3 separate regions of the Homo sapiens genome follow, and all the other regions are linked to region 2. Evidence: fine-mapped expression QTL. A gene starts in region 2. Each other region holds a variant in brackets. All regions are shown on one strand. Distances are from middle to middle.

What was found. PIP is the estimated chance that this variant, and not a neighbour inherited with it, causes the effect.
Region 1: its variant is the best candidate, but not a certain one, in a credible set for the expression of ABCA10 in sun-exposed skin (GTEx, PIP 0.80).
Region 3: its variant is the best candidate, but not a certain one, in a credible set for the expression of ABCA10 in whole blood (TOPMed, PIP 0.86).

What each region holds. Positions count from the first base shown.
Region 1 is chr17:68,786,353-68,790,602 of GRCh38, forward strand. No RefSeq gene overlaps it. Among named protein-coding and RNA genes, the nearest start is that of LINC01482, 160 kb to the left of the region's middle. The variant C/T (reference allele first, on the strand shown) is at 2,329.
Region 2 is chr17:69,226,619-69,230,868 of GRCh38, forward strand. It overlaps ABCA10 (ATP binding cassette subfamily A member 10), which reads right to left and starts at 2,206. Exons shown (of 39, transcript NM_001377321.1): 1 at 1,963-2,206; 2 at 527-667.
Region 3 is chr17:69,150,800-69,155,049 of GRCh38, forward strand. ABCA10 (ATP binding cassette subfamily A member 10) reads right to left here. Exons shown (of 39, transcript NM_001377321.1): 30 at 4,220-4,250; 31 at 3,436-3,527; 32 at 3,032-3,210; 33 at 2,672-2,747; 34 at 2,506-2,600; 35 at 1,563-1,682; 36 at 1,244-1,384. Among named protein-coding and RNA genes, the nearest start is that of ABCA6, 11 kb to the left of the region's middle. The variant G/A (reference allele first, on the strand shown) is at 2,073.

The sequences.
Region 1 (4,250 bases), 440 kb before region 2:
CCTCTCACCCCTCTCTCCCTCCCCTCCTTTTCCTTCCTTCCTTCCTTCCTCTCCTCCCCTCCCTACTTCCTTCCTCTCCCCGCTCTCTCCCTCCTGTTCTTTTTTCCTTCCTTCCTTCCTTCCTTCTTTCCCTCCTTCCTTTTTTCCCTTTATATATTTTTAAAGGCATAGTGGAAAGATCCAAGACTTTGGAGCCAGATAGCCTACTATGCACATCAGGCTCAGACACTTATGAGGTATCTACCTTGCTTTTTTAAGTCTCAGTTTCTTTATTTAAAAAAACGTGAAATTACTCAACCATTTCACTAAGGCATCAAAGAATAGAAGAGGCTGATTCCTGGTATATAAGCAGTTGCTTAATTAATGATGTTTGTTTTTTATTTCTTCTTTCCCTAAAAAAAAAAAAAAAAGACTCTATTGGTGAGAAATCTGAAGTAAATAGCATACTCTTCAAAATGAGGACCATTTTTTTAAAACATTTAGTGAATACCAACTGAGCATCAGATGCTGGAGTTACAGAGAATCTGATGGTTAACTGAGAGAGACATCAAGTCAGAGTAGTTCGGATAATCTCCCCAGTGTGTGAAGCGCAGTGAGAGCCCAGAGAATGGGGCTGACTCCTGCCAGAGAGATTACAGATTCCTCCCTCAGTGTGAACCACGGAGAACAACCTGGTGTTGGCAGGAGAATGGGAAGTGGATGAAGATATATGGGAAGAGCCAGCCAGGTGCATGTTGTGTGCAGGGAACTGTGGTGGCTGGAGATGAACATCATTGTCATGAATAGGTTAAGAGGTCAAGCTGGGAAAACAAGAGGCAAGAGATGTTCCAACATCTTCTTCACAGCTCTGTGCTCGTCTATGCTAATGTGGGCATCATGTTACTAACAGGAACAGAGCATAGGAGAGCTTCACCATGCTTTGAGGACCCTTGGTGAGGCTGCTTCATTTGGCTAGAACGTGTGTGAGGGGGAAATTGAGACTGAAGCTCCACACTCAGAGCGAAACAATGACAAAAGCTTATTACACAGTGCAGATAAATGGGGAGACAGCACCCAAAGAGGGGTCTTCAAGGCCAAAGTGGGGGATGTGAAAAATGAAGTTAGTCGTCATCAGAGACAAATAAGCAGAATGCATGTGAAGTCAAATATTGGGTTTGGGACACGCAGGTTTGCAGGTATGGGAGCTGGCACCGAGGCCAAGGAACACCTGATTGTGATGGTCACAAAGGTGCTGAGTAAATCAAGTTTTATGATCTTCAGTTGCATGTCCAGTCTATAATGTCATGTTTCAACATGGAGATTAGCATTTTTTGGTGCTAACATGTCAGCTATGACTGGCTGTTCTCATGTATCTTCATCCACTTCCCATTCTGCTGCCAACACCAGGTTGTTTTCTGTGGTTCACGCTGAGGGGGGAATCTATGATCTCTCTCAGGGGAGTCAGCCCCACTCTCTGGGCTCAGTGCATTTCACACACTGGGGAGATGATCTGAGCTACTCTGTGACTCAGTGTCTCTCTCAGTTAACCATCAGGTTCTCTGTAACTCCAGCATCAGACATTCAGTGGACATTCACTAAATGTTTAACAAAATGGTCCTTGTTTGAAAGAGTATGCTATGTACTTTAGATTTCTCACCAATAATTTTTTTTTTTTTTTTTGGTAAAGAAGAACTTGGCACAAACAAACAGGTTAGAAGTAGACCCCTAAAGATCCTAAACTCCTGCCCCAGGGAGTCCAAAGATATAGGAGAACCAGACCCACGCTGTAAGTCTCCCACTCTTTTAAACAATTTTTAAAGTTTTAATTTTTGTGGGTAGATAGTAGGTGTATATATTTTTGGGGTACGTGAGACATTTTGATACAGGCATGCAATGTGAAATAAGCACATCATGGAGAATGAGGTATCTGTGCCCTCAAGCATTTATCCTTCATGTTACAAAGAATCCAATTACACTCTTTAAGCTATTTTAAAATGTACACTTAAGTTATTGTTGACTGTAGTCAACCTGTTGTGCTATCAAATAGTAGGTCTTATGATCTTATTCTTTCTATTTTTTTTGTACCCATTCACCATTCCCACCACCCCTGCAAGTCCCCCACTACCCTTGCTAGCCTCTGGTAACCAACCACCCTTCTACACTCTTTGTCCATGAGTTCAATTGTTTTCATTTTTAGATCCCACAAATAGGTGAGAACAAGTGATGTTTGTCTTTCTGTGCCTGGCTTATTTCACTTAACATAATCATCTCTAGTTCCATCCATATCATTGCAAACGACTGGATCTTATTCTTTTTTATGGCTGGATAGTACTCCACTGTGTATATGTA[C/T]CACATTTTCCTTATCCATTCATCTTACTCCATTGTATATATGTACTACATTTTCTTCATCTATTCTTCTGTTGATAGGCACTTAGGTTGCTTCCAAATCTTAGTTATCATAAACAGTGCTGCAACAAATACAGGAGTGCAGATATCTCTTTGATATACTGATTTCCTTTCTTTTAGGTATATACCCAGCAGTAGGATTACTGGGTCATATGATAGCTCAAGTTTTAGGTTTTTGAGGAACATTCAAACTGTTCTCCATAGTAGTTGTACTAATTTACATTCCCACCAACAGTGTAAAAGGGTTCTCCTTTCTCCACATTCTTTCCAGCATTTGTTATTGTAGTCTTTTGGATATAAACCATTTTAACTGGGACGAGATGATATCTCATTGCAGTTTTGATTAGCACTTCTCTGATGATCAGTGATGTTGAGCATCTTTTCATATATCTGTTTGCTACTTGTATGTCTTCTTTTTAGAAATGTCTATCCAATTTTTTGGCCCATTTTTTGATAGGATTATTAGATTATTTTCCTATAGAGTTGTATAAGCTCCTTATATATTCTTGTTTTTCATCTCTTGTCAGAGGGGTAGTTTGCAAATGTTTTTTTCCCATTATGTGCATTGTCTCTTCACTTTGTTGATTGTTTGCTTTGCTGTGAAGAAACTTTTTAACTTGATGTGATCCCATTAGTCCATGTTTGCTTTGGTTGCCTATGCTTGTGGGGCATTGCTTAAGAAATATTTGCCCAGACCAATGTCCTAGAGATTTTCCCCAATGTTTTCTTGTAGTTTCATAGTTTGATGCTTTACATTTAAATCTTTAAACTATTTTCATTTGATTTTTTATATGGTGAGAGATGGGGGTCTAGCTTCATTCTTCTGCATATGGATTCCCATTTTCCCAGCACCATTTATTGAAGAGACCGTCTCTTCTCCAGTGTATGTTCTTGGCACCTTTGGTGGAAATGAGTTCACTGTATGTGTGTAGATTTGTTTCTGGGTCCTCTATTCTGTTCCATTGGTCTATGAGTCTGTTTTTATGTCAGTACCATGCCATTTGGGTTACTATAGCTCTGTAGTATAATTTGAAGTCAGGTAATGTGATTCCTCCAGTTTTTTTTTTCTGTTGGCTTAGAATAGCTTTCGTTATTCTGGGCCATTTTTGGTTTCATATAAATTTTAGGATGTTTTTTATTTCTGTGAAGAATGTTATTGGTATTTTGATGGGGATTGCATTGAATCTGTAGATTTCTTTGAGTAACAACAGTGTTCTTTAACAACACTGATTCTTCCAATCCATGAAAATGGAATCTTTTTCCATTTTTTTGTTTCCTCTTCAGTTTCTTTCATCAGTGTTTTATAGTTTTCATTATAGAGATCCTTCACTTCTTTGGTTAAGTTAATTCCTAGGTATTTAATTTTATTTTAGCCCCCCACTCTTGAGGAGATGGGGAAGGATCCTGTCACTGGCCACATGGGAAATGCAGAGTTTGTAGTGAGAGGTTTCCCCTTTTCCCTCCCCTCACTACATCCAAGAATGGGAGAGGGAGAGAGTTTCCAAGAGAATCTGTAATAAAGATGATAGGGAGGGTGATGCCCAGAAGGGAGCACTTGCCTTCCTTTCCTTAACTGGATTTCTGCTTAGACACTGCATTTGCTGATCTGTTCCTAAGGAAGAAGAGGATTAGAACAAACTGGTAGGGTGGGGAGAGGCATGAGGGAAGAGCAGCTGTACTCCCATCCATTTTGTGCCAAGGGTCTGCAGTGTTTCCACAGGTCATGTGGTGGGCCACCAAGGAAGTCAACTGGGCTTGCACCATCTTGACTCCCACAAGAGCTGTCCTTAGGATGAGGGGTTGCCAGTAGCAAGAGGCCGTGGGATGCACGGATTGCTAATGGCAGAAACTGGGCTGGAAGTTCT
Region 2 (4,250 bases):
TTCTATGTTTACAAAAAGCACGGCTTTGAAGAGATTCCAAAAAAGTTTGCAGATTTTTACTCATAGATATTTTCCCAGCCTTACCAAATAACATGACATTAATCGAAATGTCCCCAAATAGTATCAGGGTTTGCCCACGTAAAAATCTATTTTATTTTGCCTAGCTTATCTTTCCCCTGGCTGTCCCTGCCCCCAACACAGAAGTTAGCTAAGAGTAAATCAGAATGACTCTGAGATTTGAATGCATTAATTATGTGGAAAATGGCTGGTTCTATTCTGCAAAAGATTATTTTTCAGGAGCTGTCAGATGAGCTTTTTAGTTAATTTCACATTTGACACAAATATTATCCTATTTTGCAAAATATATATCGTTTTGCAGTATTTAGAATCTCAAATCAACTAGCCAGTATGATAATTAAAAATCAGAATTTATAAACAAGAAAAGTAATAAAAATGGCATAATACTATATGGTGGATTTTCATTTATTAATTATGGATATATATATATATATATAGTGAATCATACCAATAAACTCTCTTTTTATTCTCCATTTTTTAAGAAAATTCTTGTACAGAAGAGCCTGAATTTGTTGACGCACGCTTATCTCTTTTTTAACCATTTTGTCCTGTTCATTAACAGGGTAAAGTAAATATTGCAGAGCAATAGCTAGGGGAAAAAAGAAAAAAAAAAAGTTCAGTTACAGAAAGCCTTTGAACATTTTGAAAGCATAATTTTCAGATGTGCCAACTAAATGCCTTATATGACACTGTAGCAACATATTCAATCAGGATTTTAAAAAAGAATATAAAGTATTAGTAATTATAAAATGTCTTCTCAGTTGTTATTTCTCTCCAGGCTTTTATGGCTATGAGGGAGATAAAGGAGATAGTATATAAGACCTTTCTCCTTTTGTCTCAGAAGTCACTTTTTTTCCATGAAATCTTAACATTACATCCACCTAAAGTAAATCCCTCAATAAGATCTTAGTAATTTTTAGAATCCAAAAAACACTTTCTCTTTACTTGTTAAGAAAAAGAAGTTTAACAGGAAGAAACCACTTTGCAGTTCCTTGTCAGTCAGCAATTTGACCACAAGCTGTCTTATTTTGAATTGCACATCTGGGCACATGTATTTGATATCTTGTTAACCACTGGGCAAAGCAAAGTCGAAAACATTACGGCCATTCTTAGAATCCCAAAAAGCTAATTCCTCTTTTTTAAATCTCCATTTATGAAGTAAATATGTAAGATACATACAGATTAAAACCAAAAATATTGGCTAATATGACTAGAGTAATTGATTTGTAATAATGATCCTTATTCTTTGTTTTCAATTTGAAAATCCAGAGCTGATCATTTGGTGTCACAACTATGACTACTGAAGTCCATTTGAATAAATGTTGATATTATATACAAATTACAATGTTCAGAGAGAACTTGCTATATTTCCCCTTTTTCATAAAATAAAAGGCAAAGCCAGCAAAACCCAATATAATCTCTAAATTCTAACTTAAGAAAGTAGAAACATTAAAACACCAATCTTCACTTTATGGATACAGAGGTCTACTTAAACAGCTCCATAAGCAAACCACAAAAACATTTTAAAAGAACAAAAGAACACAGAAAAAAGGAACTTGCCCTAATGCTCACACATTCTAAAGAAGTAAAACCATACAAATTCTCAAAAGGATATTCAAAGCAGTGTCAGAGAGAGAATTTATTGTCTGATAATATTTATATACACCTCTGAATCTAGCCATCTTTCATTTATCACACTAAAATGTTACATAAGTTTTTAAAATAAAATAACTCACTAGTACTATAACATAAAGCATAAAATAATTTAGAGCATCTGAATAATATAATTTTAAAAATTTCAATCAATATGTTTGGCTTTGGCTATATACTTTATATCTTTAAAACCTTATGCAAAGTGAAAATGTAAAACAAATTTTAACTTACAGTTAAGAAAATAAGAGAGAAGTATTTGAAGCACTTGGATCCACTGGTCTCTTTTTGTCCAAGAAAACAATGAAGAATCCTTCAAGGACTCCTCTACAAATGGTTGCCTCTTTTAAAACTGTTTTGATTCAGCTTGGCTTCTGAAAAGCCATGGTCTGTGTGTAGAACATGCCAACAAATTCTGTTGGTTTTTTCCCTATGTTTTTCTCCTTGTCCAGTTACTCTTCAGAGAGTGTAATGAATTGTTGGCTGAGCGCATCATTGGTATTTGTTTATTGCTCTTTTTGGCATACACACAAAAAAAGAGATCAAATTCAAAAAGAAAAACCCACATATTTACAATTGCATGGATAACTACATATTTACAATTGCATGACTTTTAATAATTAAAAATTTGACAGCCAAGCTAAAAAAGGAGCAAATTAAAGATAAAGTTGAACAGAGAGAGAGAAAATGAGGATTGCTCATCTCAGAAATCTGAATCATTCCAATGAGAAAGTTTCATCTGAAAGTTAACTGCATTTCAGTTAAATGGTTCCTTGTATTCACTAATTCCTATGTACTAGAAAGTGTTCTAAGGGTTTAAATGAATTCTCCCATTTGATACTCAAAGCAAACCTACAAAGTTGGTACTCTACTCACATCCATTAAACAAATTTGAAAGGTGGGGCTAACAGGTGAAGTTATTTGCAGATGTTTAAATAAGTGTGAAGCCAACAGATGAGTCCAGAATAGTATCTGGACTCCAAGATCCCTCACTCTTAACTACCACTATGAAAATGGTGCTAATCAAGACAATGATATCTGATACCCATTTAAAAAGTGTAGTGGTATAGACTAGATGGCATAACTTTAATGATTTTGTTACTTTTTTTTCAGCTACAACTAAATTGGATATTCTCAGAATGGCAAATAATGCCTCTTTATCAACCCTGAAAATCTTTTTATGTGATTTTAACTATAATAATACACTTCTTGGTATGCATACAGAAGCTAATGCCCATTCATGAAAGTGACAGAGACAGAAAGGGTAAAGGACTCAGAGACTCTTCAAATGATTACCATTTTCATTAGGAATATGGAAATAAATGGTTCCTTTAATTGTAAATGTCACTAACAACAAAGGAAGCATACTTTAATTGCTTTCCTTTGTTGTTAGTGACATTTCTCTTCCTATTCAGGCAAAATCATTACTAGAAGTAAAAGTTCATGAAATAGAAAACATGAAACTTAACCTGGTTCCGATCCCAGACATTAATGGTAATATTCACTTAAATGGGTGGGGAAAACAATTAAAATCATACTATAATACAGACATACACCCTTCTTAATCACCAAATTTTTAAAATATTTTTTATTTCCATAATTGCTGTGATTTGAATGTCTCCTCTAAAATTCATGTTAAAATTTAATTACCAATGAAACAGCATTGAGAAGTGTAGCCTTTAGAAGTGGTGATTAGGTCATGAGGGCTCCACCCTCATAAATGGATTAACACTATTATCTTGGGAATGGGCTCCTGATAAAAGGATGAGTTAGGCCCAATTCTCTCTCTCTCTGTCTCATGCACATGCTTCCACCTTTCACCTTTCCACTGTGGGATGACCCTCACCAGATATCAGTGCCATGCTCTTGGACTTCTCGGCTTCCAGAACTGTGAGAAATAAGTTTCTTTTCTTTATAAATTACCCAGTCTGCTGGGTACAACTAAATCTGTGGTGTTCTGTTATAGCAATAAAAAACAAGCTAAGACAATAATTTTAGGGATTTCAATCTCCAATACGGTACAGTTGGGAGTCTGAGACCTGCATTGCAGACTTGTCACTCATTGTCTGTGTCCCTTGGAGAGGTCATATAAAATCCTCAGGTCTCTGTTACACATTTATAATAGGATTTGGACCCTTTTCATTCTTAGCCTTTACATATTTATAATTATACAGTTCTGCTACAGAGTCAGAATGTTGAAATACTCCAGATTTAGGCTTATGCACATCCACGTTACATAATACCAACTAGCACCTCCTCATCAAACTCTTCCTTACTCTTGAGTCCTTGACCCCTGAAAGCACGATGGCTTTCAGCAGGTAAATGTACTATATTAATGAACAATCAGAGGCAATTTGGCAGAAGTTTTCCTCCACATACCTCTATTTCATTCTAATTTCCCAGAGGAAACTCAGCCAATTTTTTCTAAACTCAACACCACTGCAGAATCCTTCGATCAAATTCTATTACCTAATCTAAAAATCTAGCTCTCTTGGTTATCTCTTTTTATTTTATTGTTAATT
Region 3 (4,250 bases), 76 kb before region 2:
GACTACCATCCTGGACAGCACAGAAAGGACATTTTCATTATCACAAAAATTCTACTGGCCAATGCTGTTCTAGATACTCCTCAGTCTTTGTTGGTATGGTTGTGGTGGTACTGTCCACACAGGAAGATTTATTTTCTTCCTCAATCCCATCTCAAAGCTGAGAGCTCCTGGGGTTCATCCGACTTCCTATCTCTCTTGTTGGCCTCAACATTCTCCTAGTTTAATGGTCTTCTATATGGTAAAAAAAATCCCCCACTTTGTTTGTTGCCAGACCAGATCTCAATGACCTCTTCCTTCTCTTGTGAGCCACAGGTCTACATCTCTTACTTTGGCATCTCCACTTGGATATCTCTTTACACATCAACTACATGAGCTTTTGTTTCATCCTTGACATTTGTAGAATTCATTCTTGACCTAAGTTCTTTAAATGTGCTGTTTCCTGGAAACAGTGTCTGTTACTCCCACTCTTCAGCTGACCAAACCCTGCTCAGTCTTAAAGTCCTACCTCAATGTCATATCCTCATTTATTTGTATCTTCATTTGCTTAATATCTTCACCTCCAAAAGGAAGAACCTTGTCTATTTTGTTGACTATTCAATACACAGCCGGCAGCAGATAATACGTATTCAATAAATATAACAAATATTATAAAAATAAATGAGTAGAAATGGTATACAAGAAAATTCTGTTCATCTTTCAATTAAATTCAGCCTCATTCTGCTATTCACAAGGGTTTGATTACCATTACTTGTAACACATGGTTGACCACATACAACTTTAAAAGAAACATTGGGAGGATCAAATGATTTATAATTGAATAATTTAGGATAGAGTCAATCCTTCTCAAGCATGGAAGTCTGTGTTACGGAGCTCTTGATGCAATTTATATTCAGCAAAATCCTGTAGGTGAAAGCATTGTTTTCATTGTCTATTTTTTAAAAATCATTAAAAAGTTGATAGTTTAATTTGTCTGTACTTTGTTCTTAATCTCCAAGCCATTCCACCATTTACACACATATATGAATGCACACACACACACCATTCACCTTTTCTGAGGTCTAAAACACTCACTGAAAATAACTGTTTAGTTTTTGTAACGCATCCTAGCAATCCTCAAACAGGTTGTTTTGTGATGAATAAGTCCACTCTGCCTTTCTCTTCCGGTTTAGACTAGCACAAAACTAATTGATGCTAATACTGGAAAACACTCATACTTGTCACTCAAACCGAAAACATCCTTTACCTTTCCTGCCAAGCAGCCTGTGGGAAAAGCTTCAAAATCTCTGTGTGGAGAGCTTCCACCTGGGTAGGTTCTTTCATTTTTATTTCTAGTAAATAATCTCTACCAAACTTGTTTTTCAGATGTTGAATGGAACCAATACACCTAGTTCAGGGGAAATAAAGAAAAAATACTTGTCTCTTAATTTCTTCCTCGGTTCTCACTGTAGAGGAAGGTGTTTAATTACAGGTTAGGGAGCTGTAGAGCATCAGCTGTTCATAGCAAACTGAAACTCTCTCTATAAGAACATGCTAGTCCCATGCTGGTCAGGACAGGCACCCACCTTAGCGTTCCTGACACCATCATGGCCATACGGTCACACACAGCCTCAGCCTCTGACATGTAATGGGTGGTCAAGAGGGTGCCCCTCTCCTTGTTTTTAACGGTAGCCTGAAGTATCTGCCTAAAGATAAAGTAAGGGATTGTTTGCATTTAGAAAGTAATTTGGGGAAATAGATAAATAGAAAAAAGCAGGAAATCTAAAGAGAAAATGTTATGTTAGGATGCAAGAAACCTGTGCAACATGGTGAAACCCCATCTCCACAAAAAAATTTAAAAATTAGCCAGGCATGGTGGCACATGCCTGTGGTCCCAGCTGCTTGGGAGGCTGAGATGAGTGGATCACTTAAGCCCAGGAGGTCGAGGCTGCAGTGAGCTGTGATTGCACCACCGCATTCCAGCCTGGGTGATGGAGAAAGACCCTGTGTCAAGTAATACAATTAAGTAAATAAATAAATAAATAAATAAATAAATAGGCTACAAGAGAAAATCTTTGCCATAGAGAAAAAGAATA[G/A]AAATTGTGTTATATTGCCTAATGATAGTACCATATTAATAGGCTTCATAAAAAAGAAGAGTATTGGTTAAAATAATGCACTATTGGGGAAGAAAAGTAGGAAAGTTGGAGTAAAAAATACAGAAACATCATACTATATGACTTTCAATAACTGAAAAATGAAATGGAAAAATAAAAAGACAGGGGGAAGAGGAATAAGAAAGAGAAATCCAAACAAATATAATCAAGAGTTTATTTGGGTCTTAAAATATCTATTTTTTCCCTCCTGCAGGAATTTTGAATGCTATATTAGGTTTCACTGAATTACATAATAGAAGATGTGCACATCAAAGGTTAATGGAGCAAAATGTAACAAAGAAACAAAACAAAAACAAAAACAAAATATCCTAGAGGTATTCTCTTGACTCTGACACTTAATATTCACTCTCCTTACCACATTTGCTGCTGCCCCTCGGGGTCCATCCCGGTGAACGGCTCATCTAGAAGCACCACTGATGGGTTCCCCAGGATGCTCAGCACAAAGCACAGCTGCAATGCAAGGAACAGCCCGTCGGCACCCAGCCATGGGTGCACAGGGAAACCCCGAGCCTGGCCCATACCTTTCTCTTTATTCCCTCTGATAGAGTTTTCACAGGAGCCTTAAGTTGTTCCTGGAGCTTAAGAGCTTCCACCAATCTGACAAAAAACAGTGTGATTATACATGAAGTATATGGCAAATGGACCTATCTAAAACAACTGTAGGAAACTCTAAGCACTATTATTCTAGATAGTAAATTTAAGCTTCCTTAACGTTTTCATAAATGCTAAATCTTATGATTTGGTTCTTATTCAGGTATTTGAATCATTTTATTTGCATGAAAATTTAAAGACATTGTTTATAATTTCCTTTTAATATATAATGAAGAAATGACATATTTTCCCCTTCCTCCTGCTACAAATTGTGAGACTTCTCTCTGTACCGTGAAATACTGAGAGCAGCATCTTCTTTGCCCAGTCCTTTCACAGCTGCATACAACTCCAAGTGCTCTTTCATTGTAAGCTTGGGCCACAGTGAGTTCTCCTGAGGGCAGTACCCCAAGAACTTGAGGCTGTTGTCATGCTGTTGCCTTACTGATGCTCTGCTGCCTTGTAACACCACCTGCACAAGACAATGAATGTCAGATTCACCTTTGGTTTTTGCTCCAATCCCCCTTCTACTAAAGGAGATAAAAGTGGCCATTAAGCTACAATATTTTTTGAATACGCAAGAGAAATTTTATAAATTCTTTCATCTATTTTTTAAAAAGATATTTGATTTACTGATAGGAATAATAGAAAGATGTCATCAATATTTAAAATAAAATTTCCTTCACATGTCACATACCACTCCTGCAGTTGGCTTTGTGCACCCAGTTATCATTTTAATGGAAGTACTTTTACCAGCTCCATTGTGTCCTAGTAATCCCAAAACTTCACCTGGAAGAAAGAGTCACCATCAATATTTGAATTTTCAAGGTTGACTAATCTAAAATTGCTTGGTTGGTTGCATAACATTTTGAAACAAAATGACTTTTTTTTTTTTTTTTTTTTCAGAGACAGAGTTTTGCTCTGTTGCCTAGGCTGGACTGTGGTGGTGTAATCATTGCCTGCTGCAGCCTTGATCTCCTGGGCTCAAGCGATCTTCCTGCATCAGTCTCCCAGGTAGCCAGAACTACATGCATGCACCACCACACCCAGCTAATTTTTAAATTTTTTGTAGAGATGGAGTCTTGCTATGTTGCCCAGGCTGGTCTCGAAATCCTGGCCTCAAGCCTCCCGCCTCAGCCTCTCAAAGTATTAGGATTAGAGGCACGAGCCACCGTGGCCACCTCAAAATAACATTTCTGAAACAAATGCTTAGTTAGCACCTTGAAAAATCTCCTGTATTACAACATTAATACAGAGAATCAGGGTCTTCTTAATCCAAGACTGGGTTTCTTGCCATTTGAATTGGGACATGATTTTGAAGTAGAAAAGACTTATCTGCTGACATGTGAAGAAGTTTTATAATTACACATTAACCAGGATATATGAACAGTCTCAATGAATAAAAATTTGTCCCCTTTGTAGTCTTAAATCTAGAGAATAAGGAACATTATAATAATAATAAAAGGAACAATTGTTCAAACCTTTTTTAACACAAAAGGAAACATTTCTGAT